Regions from separate parts of the Homo sapiens genome. Here region 2 is linked to region 1. Evidence: fine-mapped expression QTL. Tissue or cell type: whole blood. Region 1 holds a variant in brackets; the other region holds the start of a gene. All regions are shown on one strand. Distances are between the middles of the regions.

Region 1 (8,192 bases):
GAGATTTTATAGGTGAAGAAATTAAGAATTAAAATTTTTAAGTAAATTTCTCAAAAATCCTGATACTGTAAGTGGCAAACCACTTACAAACTTAGGATTCAAACTTAGGCCATTTGACTCCAAAGTGTGTGCTTTTTCTACTTTACATGCAAGAGTATTGCTCTCAAGGCTCAGAAATGAAAGTGAATGTCAAATAGTACACTGAAAAAACATAAAACAGTTCATCAGGTCTTTATTCTCATATATATCCTTCTTATAAAGGAAATAAAAATAAATTCTATTTTACTTAAAAAGATTTTTACTTAAAATGTTTTTAAACACAGACACAGATTTGAGCATTTTTATCAGATAACGTTAAATATGCATAATCTGGTTTTGCACTTCTAGCCGAAATAGTGAGGACCATGTTCTGCTAGGAGAAAAAAGGCTTTCAAAAAGCTGTCTGGTTTTATAGGGGTATTCTACTGAAGTAATTCTCAAAGTGTGGTTCTTGGACTGTCAGTTGACCTGAGAAATTGTTAGAAATGCACATCTTCAGGCCCCACCCCAAACCTACTGAATCAGAAACTCTAGGAGTATTTTTGAAAGCATTCTGGATAATTCTAATTTACCTTCATTTTGAGACCCACTACTCTACCAAAAGTCTGTTTTTGAAATATCATATTCAAAATGCAAAGACATTTTAGAGGAGGAGAAACACTGTGGAAATGGGTGTTCATTGTGGCTAAAGAGTTATCTGTGTTGTGCACATGTACCCTAAAACTTAAAGTATAATAAAAAAAAAAAGAGTTATCTGGCTGGACATCACCATGGAGGCATAGACTCAAGCAACTCTAAGATTAAACGGTCCTTTGAAGCTGCCTGTTTCACAGGTTTGTAAATGTCTGATTGGCCAGTGTGTATCTCTGGGGCTCCACCAGAGGTCTCTAGGGTGGGGGGCATAGGAATTGTTAACATCATCATTCTCTGGACACACTTTCTTGTGAAAAGTGTCATCCAGAATAGAACCCAGTTATCAAGGTTTAGTCTGAAAATGATTAAAAGAGTGGAAATTATTGCTTTCCTGGTTCTGAACATTGTACTGATATTAATGTAGCTCTACAATCTAATCACCTAATTGGATAATACGGAGCACATGAAGATAAGATGCCTAGGGTTATAAAGGAGGACACATGCTTCTTACCCAGCTTTCTGGAGCAGAAATATTTTTCCAGAAACATGATATCAAAAGTACATAGTAGTAACTAAATAAATTGCAAAACATGGTCTCCAAACTTTTTATTTTACTTTGTCTATACTGTGGAGCCTAAGCTGACTGTAAGCTCTATATTTTGAAGTTGCTGACAAACAACAGCTCCTCCAATGTTATGCCTGTATGGCTGAGCTTTCAACCTGGTAAGATTTCATCTCTCCCTATGAAATTGTACCTCACTGAGTCACCTTGTCGACTTTACAGCCTGTCCAGATATTATTGTATGTGATTCTGTCATCAGATCCATCTGCTGACCCTCCCAGCTGTCAGCGTCCTCATTAAAGGATTTGTTATATTTTGAATAAAACCAGGCAGACCTTCAAAAACCTCTCTCCACATTTACGTTGTCTGTCCAGTAACCATGTCGGAAAGAGGAAACTAGGTTCTTTTAGAATGATTCATTCTGATATCATAGGAGAAAAAATAGGTTGTAAACTGATGGCAACAGGGGAGTTGACTAGGCCAAGTGCAGACAATATGGCGTGGTGGGATTGTGGGTAAACTATTACAATACATATGTAATACTGTCCAAGGACATTAACATCCAAAAATTTTAAAATACTGCCGACCCAAAATCATATTTATAGACTGTATTCAGCACAGAGTCAGGCAGTTTGATGGCTTTGGAGAGATAAAGGAGTCTGTTTGGCTTGTCTATACTCATTTAAACTGTTCGAATAATTTTTCTTTCAAAGAATTCCATAATATACACTTTTTCCAGGAATCCTCCTTTCAAAGGAGGAATGAAATCCATCATTCTGTATTCACAATACTTAACTAAATCTAGAGTACCATGCTTAATTGGTATAGTGTAAGAGTAAACACTTTAAAGATCATCAACCACAATGACATTTAAGATAATTGGCAACAGTTATTATTTGTTGATTACCTAACATGTACAAGGCTATATGTTAGGTAATAAAGATACTATAAAATTCAAAAGTCCCTGCCCTCTGAGAGCCTGTGATTTCCAATGAAGCAGGCAAAATACACAGAAAATAATAGTAAGAATTCTGGTTTTTATATTTTATATTTTATATTTTAGGTCAACAAGTCTTAATCCTGGTAGCACATTAGGACTACCTGGGAAGCTTTAAAAAAAAAAATACCAATGTTGTGGCCCTACCCCAAAACAATTAAATCAGAATTTTTGGAGTAGGGCCGGGATATGCAAATTAAATTACAGATCTGGAAATCAGATACTGTTAAAATGTAAATTTTGTATATTATGTTTTTCTCTCATATTCTGTACTTCATTTCCCAGCTTTTATTTGAGAGACTTTCCAAGTATTATGTTTAGCATATAGATTTTCACTTTACACAATCTAGATATTCTAGATTTATTTATTTAATTATAAAATATTAGATATAAACCATATATTTTGTTATATAAACAGCAAATCTGTTTTAATACATTTTAATTTTATTTTTTGCCACCTATAAATAAACAAAATAAATTTATCTCTTTTATCCTCCAACAAATATTTCAGTGTCTCTTAGCAAAGAAGTTTCTTCTTTTAAGAAAATTAATTATATCATCTCTACAGCAAGTACATTTAAACAGTTCATCGCTAGGCATTTTAGCTGTTCACTAGCGTGCTCTTATATAACTTGTAAAGGTTGTAAATATTTAAATCTCTTCTAAATTATATTCTGCAATGGAAACAACAGACCTTATTTGGAGGCTGACCATGGAAGTGTTAGCATCCTGGCATCTCTAGTCCCCTCGGACAGCAGCTTTGAAAATTCTGGCCAAAAATCATGCAAACAGTAGTGATACAGTTAACAAGAAAAAGCTTATTCAGTGATGATAGAAATAGTGATGTGGCACAATTGTCTGTTAAACTGAAAAAAACTGTTTTTAATATTCAGGTTGTACTATACTTTTTTACCACGAGAGGTCCCTATATCCTGTTTGGTGTATTCAGGCCATTTGATGTGCATATCAGACTGTTGCAACACTTTGGTATTATTTCTGTCACTCTACATTAACCAGTTTTTTTAACATAGGAGAGCTAAACTTTTATTCCTTAGAATCAGCTTATTAAAAGAATTTCCTTTAAATCTCATCTGGACCTAGAAAATATCAGCATCAAAGGATATAAGAGTGGTGGAAAAACCAGGAAAATAAGTTACATAAAGTGGCAGTGAAATAGAATTCCTTTGGAGGTTAAGTGAAAACACAGGCTTCTTTGTGAGTTAAGAACAAACAATACCACTCCTTTCCATCTTAGGTCTAAATTCCATTTTGTTCAATCAGTGTTAATTAGTATCATAATTAAACATGACTTTTTTCATAGGCTGCCTTAATCATACATGAATAATATTATTTTTATCACTTCAGTTTGGCTATATGGTACTAATCATACTCTTGCCTTGAATGTAAGGAAACATAAATGTTCCTGTGTCTGCTCCTGCACTAATTTAGGTATTCATATGTTGAATACTTGCTCCATGCCAAGCAGAAAGATATATTTCTTGCCTTTAGAAGTTTATAGTTTCTTTGGGGGATATAATTTAATAGACAATTATAATCCATTGTAGTATGTTTAACATAACTCTTCATTTGATTTAATACCTTGACTTATTTCAATAAAAAGATGTTTCTATTTGTATAATTATGTC[T/C]CCTATTCCTTTAATAATTGGAGGTTACAAGGGGGCAAAAATATTTTCTCCATGACAGTGATCTTTTGTAGTAAGAGCAACTCATAATCTACCATTGGGTATGTGTTTGTACAGGGCTTGTCTTTTTTAGTTTGTTCATTTCAGTCTGGCTTATGAACAAAACAAGGACATCTCTGTTATGACTTCAGAGAATAATTTTATCTGATTAAATTATTATATTGGTACTCTTTTGAATCAGACATTATTAATTGAGATACTAATGCAATTAACCTAGGTAAGAAATTTAAAATATTGTATTTAAATGCGTATGCCTTGTATTTTTATTCCTTTGGAAATGTTAACAGTAGCTTTTTAATGGTAATTTATATTTTGATCACTAGATGGCACTAAGCACATATAGCTAAGAAAAAATAATTTTTTCTCAAGTTTTCTGAAAGCAAGTCTATGTTTTCAGCATTACACACTATAAATTTTTTTCTTACGTAGCCCATAAAATTCTTCTTGCTACAAAAGCTTTGTTTTTCTAAGTGAAATAATCTCACATCTGACTCCCTTAGGTATAGTAAGTTACGAGAGAGACACAGCCTCTGAAATTAGCAGTCATCCACTCATCAAACTTCTCTATTCTTAGCCATTTAGATTTATTATTATCATCTGTTTCTTAAACTGACCTTTTCTTACTAGTACTTCCTCTTCCCTGGGAAACAGAGAATATATTTTAATTTTTTTAAAGGGCTATTATATAGCCTCTGGCATGTTAAAAATAGATCCTAGAGATTCACACACAGAAGTTCCTGTAGGGCAAAATATAAAAAGAGCAAAAACTTTGTTTTTGTTTTTGGTCTTCTAAATATTATTCTCATATTGCAAAATATTATTTCTTTTGTTAGTTTTGGTCTGGTTATGATATTCATGCAATATATTTTCTGAATCATGATGCTTTAAGTTGCAAATAATAAATAACCTTAATGTTTAAGCTATTACTAAATTGAGTTATTTTACACAACCAGAGGTTGTCCAGAAGTTGAATGGTACTTCCAGTGGTGGTTAGAGTTAGTCAGTGACTTAATCAGAAATCCAGTGGTGGCCAGGCACAGTGGCTCATGCCTGTAATCACAGCACTTTCAGAGGCCCGAGGTGGGAGGATCACTTGAGCCCAGGAGTTTAAGGCTGCAGTAAGTCATGATCGTGCCACACTGCACTCCAGTCTGGCCAACAGAGCGAGACCCTGTCTCAAAAACAGAAACAAAAGCAGAAACCCAGTGATGTCATCAGGGACCCAGGTTTGTTTCCTTTCATATGTCCACTCCGCCATCTCTGGTATATCAGACTCGTGCTTTGTGTTGATGATAACCGCTGCAGTTCTACATAGAATTTATAATCATGGGAAAGTCCAGTAGTAGAAGAGGGGATATTCCCCCCTTTATAGGTTTATTTTTATCAGTGGTATACATTACTTCAGGATCCTGCAGCAAAGTTCTCCTCAGGTCTCATTTGCCATGCCTGGGTCCCCAGCACTTCCTAAACAATTCAATGACAGGAGGAGGGAATAACTGTGATAGGTGTAGACTGATAGAGACCCTTGCCCTTCCTAGCATCACAGACCCCCTCAGAGGAAGATGAAACCCGAAACAATATCAGAGCACTCCCCAGCAAAGAGGGAGATGGATGTGGGGAGGCAGACCACAATATTTGCTACCGTTTTTTGTTTTTATTTGTTCGTTTTTGTTTCACTTAAAGACTCTTCTTCCTGGCCAGGCATGGTGGCTCATGCCTGTAATCCCAGCACTTTGGGAGGCAGAGTGGGCGGATTGTGAGGTCAAGAGATCAAGACCATTAGACCATTCTGGCAAACATGGTGAAACCCCGTCTCTACTAAAAATACAGAAGTTAGCTGGGCGTGGTGGCACACGCCTGTAGTCCCAGCTACTAGGGAGGCTAAGGCAGGAGAATCACTTGAACCCGGGAGGCGGAGGTTGCAGTTAGCCAGAGATCATGCCACTGCACTCCAGCTTGGTGACAGAGTGAGACTCTGTCTCAAAAAAAAAAAAAAAAAAAAAAACAACTCTTCTTCCTGATGTCCTGATATTCTTGAAATATAACTGCCAAGTATTTCAAGTGTTTCACACTGGAGAGAGTCACGGATGTATCCCATATCTAGCTATTGCAGACTCTATCATTCAGTACAAGCTGTTTAACCTTTTTTTTTTTTTTTTTTTTTTTGTCTATGCATGTGTCCTTTTCCTAACAATTAGAGAAAGTAAAATCTTGAATCCTTTTTATCTGCTTACTAGTTCTATCATGCTCTGAGAACAGTATGTGTTATGAATCTAGTAACATTTCAACTAAATCTGCAATTGCCTGCTAAGTACCCACAACTTTAAAGGCATTGGGTCAAGCACTATGGGTAAGTCTGGTCAGGACATCTGGAAACACTGCCACCATCTGCCCTGGAGCTCAGCCAGACCCCGTGGCCACTCTAAAGGGGCAGAGCAAGCAACCCCGCTTCAGTGATGCGAGTCATTCATTGTTCCCTGTCAAATACAGTGCCTTTTGGCCTGTTCTGGCCTATTTTGCACCGATTTTTCCATTTTGATATCTCAGCACTTCTCAGAGGCTATAGAATGGCTCCCCTAGTATAGATTCCATCTGAAATAGCAAACTGTGACTCTGAGGAACTCATCGCCCTTCTTGGCTATTTATGCAAAAGATGTGATCCTGGTGCAATATCTGAGTGTTGATTTGTTTCTTGTCTGTATTCAGCAAATATTCATTGAATAATTAAAAGAGTATTTGTAACAATTGATATTTCAAATGTAAGGTTTTCTCTTACAGCATTTGAAAATGCTGATCATATTGTGTTTCTTGTGTTACCTGTTTTAACAGTTTATCAGTTCTTGTCAAATAGCCAGCGAATATTATCAACTAACATTTTCAAACAATATTGTGTTTTCAAGTAAAGAACTATTCTTAAAAAGCAAGTAGTATTGGCATAATTGCTAGGTCGGTCAAACCTTGTTCTTATCCTTTTAGTTTTATCTATAGATTTGAAAGAGATTAACTTGTTAGAGAATATATTTAGTCAAAAAATGTTTAAAAAGAAAAACCTCATTGATATTTTTATTTTTCAGAAAACTGTGGAATATATTTTCCAGAAATAAAAAGAGATCCAGGCAGATATTTACATAGTTGTCCTGAATCTGTGAAAAAATGGCTTCGACAGCTAAAGAATGCTGGGAAAATTCTTCTGTTAATTACCAGTTCTCACAGTGATTACTGTAGACTTCTCTGCGAATATATTCTTGGGTGAGTGATGAGTCATTCAGTTTTCATTGTCTTATGAAATACAGATAGCAAATTAGACCAGGGCTTTTTTAAAAGTGTCAGCCATGACCATATCATTATTTTAAACAATGCTGAGTGACAAGTTGATTTTTTTTCTCATGACATACCTCAATCTCTGCTGACAGCAGCCCAACCAAGTACATTTTAGCAAAGCAGTGTTATTGGGGACCAGTATGCTCATAGCTCACCGAATGTCCAGGTTTTAGGTTTTCTAGAAGGTGGTAAACTGTATATCCTTCAGTTTTCCATGAATTTGGTTTCTCATCTTTGGACGATGATTGAGGGACTCTGAGTTGTAGGTTATACTCCTCCACAGATACCTGGAGTACAGCCACTCTTTAGTCATTTCCGTGCGGAGCCATGTATTTTACTGTTTAACACAGCCATGATGGGATTGAATTCATGAGAATGAAGGCAGTATAATTGCATAGACTTTAAAGTAAGACAGACTTGATTTCAAGCCCCGCTCTGCAGTTTACTGTATTACCTGGGGCAGGTTTTATAACCTCTTTAAGCTTCAATTTTGCCGTCATAAAAATGGTACAGTAATTCCTTGTGGGTATGAGGGGATATTTAAATAGCATAATACAGGTAGAGAATTAGACAGGAATAGTTGATAGACTTCAGTGTGTAAATACTTATTCTTGTGGGAAATACCAGGAAATGTCTATGGTCAAAGCGAGATTCTACCTGAGTCATTAGGTCTCCCCTAATGTTTCCTCAAATTCCATCAAATACCGAATTGCCATGAGTATGGAGCAAGTTTGAGCCTTAAAACCTACCTTCACCAGCCCTTTTAGCATCATGATTTCCATGTTCCTTAGCATGTGTGGCTTTAGTTTCTTCTATGGTATGCTTAGAATCTGTGAGTAGAATTCCTGCTTTCTGAATAATATACAGGCTGATACATAATAATGCATCTTTTGGGTGAATTAAGGCTAAAGTCCTGGATGTCTTAGAAGGTGCCTCT
Region 2 (8,192 bases), 35 kb after region 1:
AACAGGCATAGAAAAGGTATAATAAAGCTTGAAACAGGTGGCTGACAATGCAGAAATCAATCACTGAACTGAAAAGGTAAAATGAACATTGTTAGAGGAATTTAGGATTAAGATGGATGTAGAGCTTGCAAAAGAAAACCTAGCTCTCTAATACTTAAAGTTCTCTAGCCCTAGAAAAAAATACCTCAGCAAGAAATTGCAAGTAATAATTGCACCAAGAGTCAGCATCTATTTTAACTGTATGTTTAATTAAGTTTCTAACTCAAATGAGAAATTTTGGGCCATTTTTGTCAAATTTTTGCTTAGATGGCTACAAATACTTAGCAATTCATTTTCATAGATTTTGTAGCATCCACAAAGCCCTCCTTACTGCAGAGAATGCAGAGGTATTTATCCAATAAACTTTCATGTAATTGCTGCTATACAGCAAAACTATCATTACCGGTAATTAAAGTTGTGATACCTGATATCATTTGTCTCTAGACATTTTATTTCATATTTTCTTGGTATTCTTTTTAAAGCCACACATTGGTGTAAGAAAAGAATGTTAAGTAGCACTGACAGAATACACAATAATTAATTCTTCCAAAAGTCTATCTTAAGCTTATTAGATCTCGGAAGGCACAGTTAATAATAAATGTAATGAACAAGGATGCTGCATAGACAAGTTTTCCACTGAAAACAGTATTTTAAGTGATACTATATGGTGCTTCAATTACCACCAAAAACTGCACTGGTTATGTAGAAAAAATAATGCTCATGAGTATGCAGTTGCAGTTGGGCTCCCATTTACCATTTTTCAGGTGAAAAATCTTGGAAGGTTTGGTGGCTGTTGCCTTTTTTTTTTTTTTAAACTTTCAGGATGATAGTTACTGGTATCATTTGATAACTTTAATGATTTCCCAACCTTAAATTAACCTAGACAACACAGAATTTTTTAAATTATTTTTATTTTTTGATGAAAACAAGAAATACGGTAGTGACACTTTATTTTTCCTTCAAGCACATGGGAGAAGACAAAAGTACTAAATGATCATTGAGTTTGACAGAGAAATTCTACTGGTACTTACACTGCTTAGGAACATAAATGTCAAGTACATTACTAGGGCAAGAAATATCAAGTAAGACAACAGAGTCGTATTTTTCTTTTTGAGGTTATTTTCACAAGACATAGCTATAATTTGTAAAATATTCAGACTATTGAAAGATCACATTCAAATTATATTTCTAAGAATAGAGCCATATATGAACAGAGAGCAAAACAAGCTAATACATTAATGAATATTCACTGAATTCTTCATACTGCACAGGACACAAATTTGGTATTTTTGCACATGTTGTCAATTATAAGCAAAAAGCAGGCCTGTAAACATCAATTTTGTCATAGGCTGAAACAGAGAAAGGAAATGGATTTTACTCAAAAACAGTGACATAAGGAGCATATACCATTAATCTTCCACACATATAAAGGTCACTCCTAGGATAATTGAGAGAAAACATCGACTTACATTTTGTTTACAAAAATCTACTGGTGAATTCAAGGACTTAGGAAAAATTGAAGGAAAATCTTCCTCCAAGCATGCTATTTAAACCCCAGCCCCTCTTCCCTGGAGAGCACCTCAGGGGCCTCCCCTCCCACCCCTGATCCTGCAGGTTCTTTCCTGTGAGCCTTTCCAAACCCACGCCACAGCAGGCTCATTCCTGCTCTGGACTTTTACTCAGTTTCCCAACCTAGATTAACCTCTCCACTGTGTGTGTTCAGACCTCCTAAACCCTCAGGTAGCTTAGGGCAAGGCCTTCAAAACCAAAGGGGAAAAGGGTGATGGTGGATGGTCTTTATCACCACACATGATCATAACTAAGCCTTGACGGCATCACTGTCCCACCTACTGGAACTTGTCCGTGAAAATCCACACAGATGCTGCACATCCCCTTATCCCCTACAAGGAGGCTGGAGATCTTCCACAATGCAGGCTGCAGCCTGCTTCTTCATTTGTTAGGAGCAGGGAAGGAAATGCAGAAGCTGAGAAATGAGGGCCAAGAAAGCCAGGCAGTAGGATGGAGACCCAAGGGACATCAGGGCAGAAACAAAATAGTACAAAGGAGAAGAGTGACCTACAAAATGCTACCCTAGAAGCAGTCCAAGGCCCAAAAAAGAATTTCCATCTTTAGAAAAGTGGAGTGAGGCTAAGTTTTGGTTGCCTTTGCTCACATCACAAAGGCCTTTGCCTTTGACCCGTCCTGAACCCATCACTGTGAGGCCCTTCTCTCTCTTTCCAGCTTCTCAAACTAAAAACTCAAGAAATACACAGGTTTTGGTAGAATGGATGGGGTAAAAAGATAAATATGTCAAAATCTGCCTAATTTAACACTGCCTATAACTAAACAATTAACCTATAGGTCTCCCTTTGAAACTTTCAGACCTTGCTAAAAGAAGTGGGGTGGAGGAATAAGGGCAATAAGAGATCTGGAGCCCATTTAATCATAACCTTTCTCTCTGAACACAATCAGGGAAAGAGCAAATTAAACAAAAAGCCTGCTTTGCCAGTTTTGTTTTCTGTTAATAAGCTAAAACTGCTTCAGAGTGAAAGGGAAGAAAAGGGATGGGAGGGAGAGGGGGAGGGAGAGGGGAGGAGGAGGGAGAGAAAGAGACAGAGGCATAACAAGTCTCACATTCCAGAAATATCTCTTCCTCAATGCCCCAACTCTGGCAACTTTTGTCATGTTCAGAGTGGGTGCAGGCGGGGAAAAGAGGAAATGCCTAAAGAAGTTGCTCACATTAAGGATGGTTTGTTGGCTAGGAGTCAGAAAGACTAAGCTGGAAGGGACTGCGTTCCAGCCTTGCTTTGGGCTCTGTCACATATTACTGCCCATCCTGGTGGTAGGGGGTGTTGCTGTGAGCTCCCTGGGAGCTACGTCTACAGATAGTTCCTGATGAGGCAGACAATGGTGGCCTAAGCAAAGTTCAACCAGAAGGTGAGAGTGAGTAGGGGTGGGCTATAGCACAGGCTTCATACTCACCAGCAGCTGGTCATGACGTAGAGTAACCAAAGGTACAGGAAAACCAATGTGATAACATAGAACACTTTTCATCTATTACCTCAGTCACGCCTAGCAGTCACCCATCAGCCACCAGCTTGTTCTATCAGATAACCAGTAGGGTGGATGGCACAAGCCCAGGAAGGCAGCTGGGATCCAGTTGGTGGTAGTCTGGAATGTCCAATTTGGGTTGATGGCCGGGTTAAGATATCAGTTTTGTCTTGCAGTGGTAATACCCAAATAGCTTACCATAAGTACATGGGTATCAGGACACAGCCAGCATAAAGTATGAAGCCCAATCAGTTATTTGTGAAAATGTATCAAGATTCTTTGTGGTACAGAACCACTTAAATTGGGAGAAGAGCATGGTCACAGATAGGGTCCAAGCCATGCAAAGAAAGGCAGTATGGTACACTATATCTATAGTATCATACGCTTGGCATAGAAGCCGTAGAAGGCCATGCACTTGAAACATGTTAACACAATGCAGAAAAGCATGAAGGCCCAGAGGAAGAATGGCACAGGCAGGTAAGCCAACAATCTTGCAACCGATTACTGAAGATTTAGAACCAAAGGAAAAGATAATCCACAGTATGAAGAGAAAGCAGATGGAAGACTGCATGCTGTTGGCCAAGCATAGGTCCAAGAGGAGGTGGTAAGGAAACTTGTGCAGAAGCTTCTCACAGGACAGAGATTAGCCAGACTGGAACCTGAAGGATCTGGCGCTCTCCACTGGCTGCCTTGGTGGGCCTCGAATTCCTCTACGGGGCCCTTCACCCATCAGGTAGTATTGTAGGGGATTGGGCCACAGTTCTCCTTTGATAATCTCTGCAATTCTGTCGAATTCTAGAAGGCTGTGGTCTGAAAACCAGTTGAAGAAACTAGGGATAGTGTTCCCTTCCCGGTTTCTGTGGATATGAGCCTGGGGGTCTTGGCCTCGGTGCCAGCGGATTGGAGTGGAAAGAGACACCACCCGGCCAGAGGATCTGCGTTCATATTCCTTGACAAGCCCCTCATTTCGGAAGTAGGGGTTGCCCTGAAAGATGAACTTGAATTTGCAGCCTGCTCTGGGGTGTTTAAGCTCCTCCACCTCCAAATTGATCATGTACCTCAGCATGTCTTCATCTTGGCCACTGATCATAGGTGACAGCTGGGGGTGGTTTCGAAAGGCAGTAACCCAGAAACCTGGGATATTCTGGATAATGAAACTTCTGCGCTGCATGTGGAGCCTTCGCATGCGGCCAAACTTGCGCTCAAGCTGAAGGAAGGCCCTGTCAGCCTGGGCATTTACGTTTGACAACTCTTGATCGATGGCCTCCAGTGAGTCCATGCAGTTATTGATCTTCGGGGCCCTGGGCCGTGTCTCCTCTTTCACCCCTCCTGCCACCTTTTTTTCCTTCTGCACTACCTTCTTTTCCTCCATCGCCGCCCCTGCTTCTCCCTCCTTTTCCACTGCTGCCGAGATGGCGCGTTTTTTAGTCGTCACTTCCTTGGCCTTCTTCCCCGGTATCATCTGAGACCCCAAGCCCCCTGCGCCACAGGCTTCTAGAGCCTTCTGCCCAGCAGGGCCACGGGGCTCTCCAAGCTGACAGCCATTTTTCTGGCTGCTGTCAGCAGCCTCGGCGGCAGAGGCTGCTTCCAGACCTTTCGTAGAAGGTGGAGCATCCTCCTGCCCGGCTTTGGTCGCTGCACCGCCGCGACTCCCGGCAACTGGGACGCGGAGCGCGGGGCCACAGTCGACAGGATCCTGGGATGCACCCCCCTCCGCAACGGTCTCCAGGCTGCCCCCACCTGTGTTCGCCATCACCTGTGTCGCCTCGGTTTCTTCACGGAGCCCTTGGCACTGGTCTCGGTCCGGATCTCCTGAGGCATGGTCGGGAGCAGCCAGGCCGCCGGTTTGGGCGAGAGGGAGCTTGTTGCCCCCATCCAGGCCGCTCATTTTGGAAGAAGTCAGACTAGTGGGAGAGGGAGAGTTCCTTGTCCTCCGCAGCGGCCGAGCTCTGCCCGAAACGTCTAGCACCACCCCTCCTTTACTCTCGGCGGTGCTACCATGGCAACTGGTGATGTCAGGGCGGTAGCGTCGTAACATCGCGCGAGAACTCTCTGCGCGGTTGACTACGCTTATCAATCCATCGTATTCCTTTGTCTTCTTGTCACAAAAAGAATTTCGTCAGTCTGGAAGGGGAGTTTTACTTACGTAAATGGATGTAGACCAGACTCAAGCATGTAAGAACTGTGTTAATGTGGATTTCTAAGCCTCTGAATGAATTTCTAAGGCACCTAACCTATTGTTTCTGAAAATATTTACTTTAAGGTGAGTTACTGTCTATTCAAGTCAGTTCATAGGGCTTCTCCTGAGTAGGAAAGTGGATTCACGAACTCACAGGCCTTCCTTCTTTTAAGGTGTGGATTCATGGCTATTACCAAAGAATTTAAATGAGCAGAGTTTGATTTTAAAGAGAAGTGTTGCTGTGTTGTTATTTTTAAAATTAAGGAGCAGCTGAAAGGCAAACTTCTCTCATCCTAACAAGACATAATAAAGGAATATTTCAATTTGTCTTACAGATTTTAAAGTTTATATAATTTGGCCAACATCTACAAAACAAGTGGACAATATTTCCTCTTCACTTTTAACAAAGAGTAGCAAAATGTTTTTCCTTACGTAGAGGTGACTGGCACACGAGCACAAATTTAGGCTTTTAAGCATTACTGAAAGAAATATCTCAGGGGATTTTAATTTCTAAACTGATGCATATGTTCTTTTCCTCAGGTTACAATCTTAATCTAAAAGTGGTTCCTGCTTCATAATGCCTGTGGACATGAAGCTAACAAATCTTTTCAAAATGTGTTCATGTGGTAATTCACTGCAGCACAGGAGCAATAATCAGCTATGTGCAGGCATCTATGCTACTGTCTCTTAAAATACTTTAAAAGTAAGGTTAGTTATTGTCTATTCGAGTCAGTTAGCTCTTACAATTCATTTGATAGTGATTATCAGTACAATATATTAGTTTGTTGGAGTGTGAGAATAATGGTGTTAATCCTTAGAAAAATGCAAGACCAAAGGGAAATTTAAATTTTGCATATTTATGTTTAATGTCAAATTTATATTCAAATAAACGGTTATGATTATAACTCTTTGTAAAAGAAACTCCATTTTAAGCCCCCCAGATTATGATCACTTTCAAATACAGGCTCAGAAGTACAGATTTAGAGAAAAAGGATTCCTCTTAGAGGAATACATCATATATACTGAGACTTCTAGCGAGGGAAGGAGTGTAGTTCTGGTTCAACTAAGATAAAGTACTGATGAAAGGTCACTGGCAGACAATACGGAGAAACAGCCTGCCTTGCAGGATTTTTTGTATGCCTAGTCAGCCTACCCAAGGACAATGTGTCCAGAATGACCTCTTTACTGCCTGCCAGCTAATCAGTTATCCCATAAGAAATATGCAAACAAGATTCACACAGCAGAGAGCAATTATTTTTCTCTCCCTCTTTCCTCTTTGTCTTAATAAACGCTCTTTTTTTATTTGTGGGGTGAAATCAATCTATTGAGGTATCGTCTTTGTAAACACATAAACAGCGTGCTATAATTGACTTTGTGACTTTGAATTATTGACACTGCTCTGTTTCTTTTCCAAAGAACCTTTGCACTGTTGAAAGAGTAACTTTTCCATTATAACCTGAGTCAAGATGAAGAGAAGCAGGGAATACTGAATGAAAGTTACTTTTCCATGCAGCAGGAAAAAACAAGTTTGCTACTATACAAATTTATAGAAAAGTATAAAATTACATGTGAACTTCTTTTTCTTTTTGTGTGTGCCAAAGTTTTTTAAAGATTTATATCTCTACTACTCAAAGCATTCCCATCTCTAGCCTGTATTAGTTCTGTCACCTGAATCATTTTTCACTCATAACCACCTGGCCATTCTTTAACACTCAGTTCATGTAGATTGTACTAGGCAGTTTAAATACATTAGATTTTATAAACAAAGACCCAGTGAGCACAGAGCAGTTAACATGCCCATGGTCACATATGTATTAATTGGCAGATTGCCTCCTCCCACCTTATTACTTTACCTCCTTCCTTAATTACTTGCCATTTTGACAGTCTTCTGATTTCTGTATAGCCCTTATGACTTTTACTATCCAACTTAGTACAGTTACGTTTCACTGAATGACAGGGATTTTGTCATTATGGAAACATCATACAGTACATCTATCAAACCTAGCTGCAATAGCCTACTATACACCTAAGCTAAATAGTATATCATATTGCTCCTAGGCTACAAACCTGAACAGCATGTTGCTGTACTGAATACTGTAGGCACTTGTAACATAATGGTAAGCATTTTTGTATCTAAACATAAGAATGATACAGTAAAAATAGAGTATTACAATTGTATGGTCCCACACTTGTATATGCAGTTCATCTTTGACCAAAATGTTATGCAGCAAATGACCGTACTTATTTATCCTCTACTTTTTAACTTTATTGGTTGTTTCATTAAGGTCAGTTTTATCCCAGCTAGATAATGACTGCATAGCAGCTTCTGTAGCATCTACGACAGTATAGTCCAGTTACTATCTCATAGAATGTTTTAATGAATCTTGATTATTTAAGTGAAAATTTAAATTTAAATAAAAATTTTAAAAAATTTTACCAAAATGAATAGTATGACTACCCTTGTGTTTCATTTTGAGGTGGGTGGATATATAATAGTAGCTATGAGTTATATTTTACATTTTTTGCACATTAGAATAATATATATTTTGTACACAGTAAAGTCTATTCTACTGGAAATTGGCAATAAACCTTACTAAGCAGAAAAAACTACATCAGTGACTTATGATTCTATGGGAAAATATCGATAGAAAATGCCATGAAAATCTATGAGGTAATTTTTATTTGCAAGGAGAAAAGATATTTAATGGAAGTTCAAACATAAATTAATACAGTCAAACAGGAATGACTTTACTAAAGTATAAAGATTGGAAAATTTGTGAAATATCCCCTATTGTTACATCTTTGACCAGCAGTTTCTTTTTCAGAATGATATAGTTTCTGGTTCATTATTTAGTGTTTTCTATATACCATATACTTTTATGTGCTTAAATGTGTATCTCATTTAATTTTTACAAGGACCCTG

Evidence for each region. PIP is the estimated chance that this variant, and not a neighbour inherited with it, causes the effect.
Region 2: TSPYL4 starts here. The variant in region 1 is fine-mapped to the expression of TSPYL4 in whole blood (INTERVAL, PIP 0.99). The same link has a PIP of 0.9 or more in breast and unexposed skin.

Annotation. Positions count from the first base shown.
Region 1 is chr6:116,214,046-116,222,237 of GRCh38, forward strand. It overlaps NT5DC1 (5'-nucleotidase domain containing 1), which reads left to right. Exons shown (of 12, transcript NM_152729.3): 7 at 7,009-7,183. It also overlaps a transcript of COL10A1 not described here. Among named protein-coding and RNA genes, the nearest start is that of TSPYL4, 36 kb to the right of the region's middle. The variant T/C (reference allele first, on the strand shown) is at 3,878.
Region 2 is chr6:116,249,031-116,257,222 of GRCh38, forward strand. TSPYL4 (TSPY like 4) reads right to left here and starts at 5,045. Exons shown (of 1, transcript NM_021648.5): 1 at 934-5,045. The coding sequence starts at 4,978. The coding sequence ends at 3,734. NT5DC1 (5'-nucleotidase domain containing 1) reads left to right here. Exons shown (of 12, transcript NM_152729.3): 12 at 1-467. It also overlaps a transcript of DSE not described here. RefSeq lists enhancers at 4,617-4,776, 5,187-5,416.